Linked DNA regions of Homo sapiens: region 2 is linked to region 1. Evidence: fine-mapped expression QTL. A gene starts in region 1. The other region holds a variant in brackets. All regions are shown on one strand. Distances are between the middles of the regions.

Region 1 (2,918 bases):
GGGCTTTTCGCTTTTTACCCTATATACTTCTATACAGTTTTAATTCTTTACATTTGCTGTACTGGGATTTTTTCTTTTTAAGTTAGAAAGAACATATTAGTGGTTACTCTGAGTGGGAGGTTTATGGATTTTCCATGTTATTTTTCCAATTTTTTTATGCAGCCTTAAATTTCTACAGAAATAATTACTTTTACTTCAGCAAAAAAAGTAACATAAAACAAATTAAAATGTTTGCATTTCTGGGATTTGGTATAGGAAATTTTATAAAATTTTCTAATTTTGTATGTGGATGGTTTATCTGAAATGGTCTGGGAGCACTGGGCCTCTTGGAAACAAAGTACAAAGTGTAATAACGGCCATAAAACTACACTGAGGAAACGATTTAACAAACATTTACTGATTGCCGATTATGTGCCTAGCACACTGCATCTGCAGTGATAACAGTTTTCCTATTAACCATCCTAAGGTCTCAGTGACAGATTTACAAGCTGTTTTTTTATTTCATTTTGCAGGATTTTTTTTTTTTTTTTTGCTTGCCTTATCCCTGGGATAACCCGTCCCATTTAATTCCCTGCACCGCTCTATTCCTTAAGAGCCCTTCTGTAGGGGCAGAGAGGTTCTACTTCATTACTGCGTCTCCTGGGAAGGCCATCAGGACTGCTGGCTAAAGTGGGAACCAGGACTCTTTGTGAGTTAAGAATTTGTGTATTTATATGTGTGTTATACACATTTTTTAAAAAACTGTAACGACATCAGGTTGAGCAGTCGTCTCCGGGTGGTGAATTATGTGTATTTTTAAATTTTATACTATATTGTTATTTTTCAAATGTTCGAAATTGAATATGTAGATTGTTGTTATCAGCAGAAAAATAAACATTATTCAAATACTCTATTCAGTAAAGTAATTTATTGGGCGCCTTTGTCAAGCACGCATTTGCCTAGATGTGACTCTACAGATAAAATTCACTTGGGGCCTCCCCTTACAGACAATCAGGCAGTGGAGACTGAGTGCCTGAATGGATAGACCAGCACTCAGACCACTATTTTCAGTATCTGTTTTTCTTAACTCAGGGCCGTGGTTTTCAAACGTTTTTCGCCTTACGGTCACCCTTAGGGGTCCCCCGAGACCGGCCCAGACAGACAGATATACAAAAACACATACACAGTCATGAGCGTCCACCATTTCCCCACCAGGCGCAGCACAGGCGGCTTCCCGGCACTGAGATGGGGGGGAGGAGGGAGAGAGCGCGAGGGGGGAGGGGAAAGCAGAGAACGAAAGAGGCGGAGGCGGCCCCCGAACCCCGCTCTGGTCTTCATCATCACCACCCCTGGGTCCCCAGTTCCCACCCACACACCAACCTCTAACGATACCGGGTAATTTTCCTCCTTCTTCCCTCAAACGGCTATAGCGAGACGGTAGACGACGACCAGAACTACTTCTGCTCACGTAAGCGAGTAATCACGTGAGCGCCTACGTCATGTGAGATCTCGGTCACGTGAGCAACTCTCGGCTTAAACTCGGGATCACTAAGGTGCCGCACTTCCTTCTGGTATGGAAATAGGGCGGGTCAATATCAAGAAAGGAAGAGGGTGATTGGTTAGCGGAACGTCTTACGTGACTGATTATTGGTCTACCTCTGGGGATAACCGTCCCAGTTGCCAGAGAAACAATAACGTCATTATTTAATAAGTCATCGGTGATTGGTCCGCCCCTGAGGTTAATCTTAAAAGCCCAGGTTACCCGCGGAAATTTATGCTGTCCGGTCACCGTGACAATGCAGCTGAGGAACCCAGAACTACATCTGGGCTGCGCGCTTGCGCTTCGCTTCCTGGCCCTCGTTTCCTGGGACATCCCTGGGGCTAGAGCACTGGACAATGGATTGGCAAGGACGCCTACCATGGGCTGGCTGCACTGGGAGCGCTTCATGTGCAACCTTGACTGCCAGGAAGAGCCAGATTCCTGCATCAGGTATCAGATATTGGGTACTCCCTTCCCTTTGCTTTTCCATGTGTTTGGGTGTGTTTGGGGAACTGGAGAGTCTCAACGGGAACAGTTGAGCCCGAGGGAGAGCTCCCCCACCCGACTCTGCTGCTGCTTTTTTATCCCCAGCAAACTGTCCCGAATCAGGACTAGCCCTAAACTTTCTCTGTGTGACCTTTCCTGGGATGGGAGTCCGGCCAGCGGCCCCTGTTTCTTTCTCTCTCTCTCTCTCTCTCGTTCTCCTTCTCTTTCTCTTTCTCTTCTTTCCTCTCTCTTTCTCTCTCTCCCTGCCCGGTTCTCTTTTTTCACTGCTCCTTGCAGAGCAGGGCCACCCCATAGGCAGTGTGCCCAAAGTAGCCCTGCCCGGTTCTATTCAGACCCTTCTTGTGAACTTCTGCTCTTCCTCTGCCGGGTGCTAACCGTTAGAACATCTAGGGTGGGTAGGAGGAATGGGGAACTAAGATTCGTGCCATTTTTTCTCCTTTTGGGGTCGTGGATTTCTCGGCAGTATCTCGAGGGAGTTAGAGAGACCATAAGGTCGCTGAGATCTCTCCCACCTCGCCCATGAGCGTGGCATCAGGCTGGAAGGTTGACATGGAGGAACTTTATACATTTACACCTTTGCGTGAGGGTTGAGGCTGGATTAGATAGGTATTGAACATATCTGACCCTCACAATCCTTATCTGTAAATTGGGATTACAACCTTTTAATTTCAGGGAGCTGACAAAAAAAATCTGAAAAATAGTTCTTATCTCACACAGGTGAGTTTTCAAGGAGATAACCTATTTAAAGTACATAGCACAGCGCTTGACCATTCAACTGCGCTTACAGAGCAAATGTTCAATGGGAAAATGAATGTAAATCTACAAATCTGAATGAATATGTGTATTTTTCTGGAGAGAGGATATTTACCTTTCTTCAAATTCTCAAAGGGCT
Region 2 (2,918 bases), 240 kb before region 1:
ACTATAAAAAGAAATGAACAAATCAACAATCGCACGGAAGAATACAACATCTCTAAAGTATTTAAAGAATAAGGAGAACAAAAAGTATTCTATTAATATATCTTGATAGTAAAGATATAGAATATTGAGCAATGTGGTCAACAATCTGATTTAATGGATGTACACAAAATCCTGAACCAAATAATAGGAGAATACACTTTCTTCTCAAGCATAGAGGGACTGTTTATAATAATGATCATGAATTTGGCCATAAAACATATCTCAACAAATTTCCAAGAATCAGTGTCATAATAATCACTTTATTTGACCAAAATGCAATTAGGATAGAAATACATAACAAGGTAATATGTTTTAAAAACCATGTATTTGAAATTTTTTTTATTATACTTTAAGTTTTAGGATACATGTGCACAATGTGCAGGTTAGTTACATATGTATACATGTGCCATGTTGGTGTGTTGCACCCATTAACTCGTCATTTACATTAGGTATATCTCCCAATGCTATCCCTCCCCACTCCCCCAACCCTACAACAGGCCCCGGTGTGTGATGTTCCCCTTCCTGTGTCCAAGTGTTCTCATTCTTCAATTCCCACCTATGAGTGAGAACATGCGGTGTTTGGTTTTTTGTCCTTGCGATAGTTTGCTGAGAATGATGATTTCCAATTTCATCCATGTCCCTACAAAGGACATGAACTCATCATTTTTTATGGCTGCATAGTATTCCATGGTGTATATGTGCCACATTTTCTTAATCCAGTCTATCATTGTTGGACATTTGGGTTGGTTCCAAGTCTTTGCTATTGTGAATAGTGCCTCAATAAACATACGTGTGCATGTGTCTTTATAGCAGCATGATTTATAATCCTTTGGGTATATACCCAGTAATGGGATGGCTGGGTCAAATGGTATTTCTAGTTCTAGATCCCTGAGGAATCACCACACTGACTTCCACAATGGTTGAACTAGTTTACAGTCCCACCAACAGTGTAAAAGTGTTCCTATTTCTCCACATCCTCTCCAGCACCTGTTGTTTCCTGACTTTTTAATGATCACCATTCTAACTGGTGTGAGATGGTATTTCATTGTGGTCTTGATTTGCATTTCTCTGATGACCAGTGATGATGAGCATTTTTTCATGTGTCTGTTGGCTGCATAAATGTCTTCTTTTGAGAAGTGTCTGTTCATATCCTTCACCCACTTGTTGATGGGGTTGTTTGTTTTTTTCTTGTAAATTTCTTTGAGTTCTTTGTAGATTCTGGATATTAGCCCTCTGTCAGATGAGTAGATTGCAAAAATGTTCTCCCATTCTGTAGGTTGCCTGTTCACTCTTATAGTAGTTTCTTTTGCTGTGCAGAAGCTCTTTAGTTTAATTG[G/A]ATCCCATTTGTCAATTTTGGCTTTTGTTGCCATTGCTTTTGGTGTTTTAGACATGAAGCCCTTGCCCATGCCTACGTCCTAAATGGTATTGCCTAGGTTTTCTTCTAGGGTTTTTATGGTTTTAGGTCTAACATTTAAGTCTTTAATCCATCTTGAATTAATTTTTGTATAAGGTGTAAGGAAGGGATCCAGTTTCAGCTTTCTACATATGGCTAGCCAGTTTTCCCAGCACCATTTATTAAATAGGGAATCCTTTCCCCATTTCTTGTTTTTGTCAGGTTTGTCAAAGATCAGATAGTTGTAGATATGTGGCATTATTTCTGAAGGCTCTGTTCTGTTCCATTGATCTATATCTCTGTTTTGGTACCAGTACCATGCTGTTTTGGTTACTGTAGCCTTGTAGTATAGTTTGAAGTCAGGTAGTGTGATGCCTCCAGCTTCGTTCTTTTGGCTTAGGATTGACTTGGCAATGTGGGCTCTTTTTTGGTTCCATATGAACTTTAAAGTAGTTTTTTCCAATTCTATGAAGAAAGTCATTGGTAGCTTGATGGGGATGGCATTGAATCTGTAAATTACCTTGGGCAGTATGGCCATTTTCACAATATTGATTCTTCCTACCCAGGAGCATGGAATGTTCTTCCATTTGTTTGTATCCTCTTTTATTTCATTGAGCAGTGGTTTGTAGTTCTCCTTGAAGAGGTCCTTCACATCCCTTGTAAGTTGGATTCCTAGGTATTTTATTCTCTTTGAAGCAATTGTAAGTGGGAGTTCACTCATGATTTGGCTCTCTGTTTGTCTGTTATTGGTGTATAAGAATGCTTGTGATTTTTGCACATTGATTTTGTATCCTGAGATTTTGCTGAAGTTGCTTATCAGCTTAAGGAGATTTTGGGCTGAGACGATGGGGTTTTCTAGGTATACAATCATGTCATCTGCGAACAGGGACAATTTGACTTCCTCTTTTCCTAATTGAATACCCTTTATTTCCTTCTCCTGCCTGATTGCCCTGGCCAGAACTTCCAACACTATGTTGAATAGGAGAGGTGAGAGAGGGCATCCCTGTCTTGTGCCAGTTTTCAAAGGGAATGCTTCCAGTTTTTGCCCACTCAGTATGATATTGGCTGCGGGTTTGTCATAGATAGCTCTTATTAGTTTGAGATATGTCCCATCAATACCTAATTTACTGAGAGTTTTTAGCATGAAGGGTTGTTGAATTTTGTCAAAGGCCTTTTCTGCAGCTATTGAGATAATCATGTGGTTTTTGTCTTTGGTTCTGTTTATATGCTGGATTACGTTTATTGATTTGCATATGTTGAAGCAGCCTTGCATCCCAGGGATGAAGCCCACTTGATCATGGTGGATAAGCTTTTTGATGTGTTGCTGGATTCGGTTTGCCAGTTTTATTGAGGATTTTTGCATCAATGTTCATCAGGGATATTGGTCTGAAATGCTCTTTTTTTGTTGTGTCTCTGCCAGGCTTTGGTATCAGGATAATGCAGGCCTCATAAAATGAGTTAGGGAGAATTGCCTCTTTTTCTATTG

Evidence for each region. PIP is the estimated chance that this variant, and not a neighbour inherited with it, causes the effect.
Region 2: its variant is fine-mapped to the expression of GLA in whole blood (TOPMed, PIP above 0.99).

Annotation. Positions count from the first base shown.
Region 1 is chrX:101,406,761-101,409,678 of GRCh38, reverse strand. GLA (galactosidase alpha) reads left to right here and starts at 1,754. Exons shown (of 7, transcript NM_000169.3): 1 at 1,754-1,969. The coding sequence starts at 1,776. All of the region lies in intron 3 of RPL36A-HNRNPH2 (RPL36A-HNRNPH2 readthrough), which reads right to left. It overlaps HNRNPH2 (heterogeneous nuclear ribonucleoprotein H2), which reads right to left and starts at 1,457. Exons shown (of 2, transcript NM_019597.5): 1 at 1,360-1,457.
Region 2 is chrX:101,646,078-101,648,995 of GRCh38, reverse strand. No RefSeq gene overlaps it. Among named protein-coding and RNA genes, the nearest start is that of ARMCX2, 12 kb to the left of the region's middle. The variant G/A (reference allele first, on the strand shown) is at 1,376.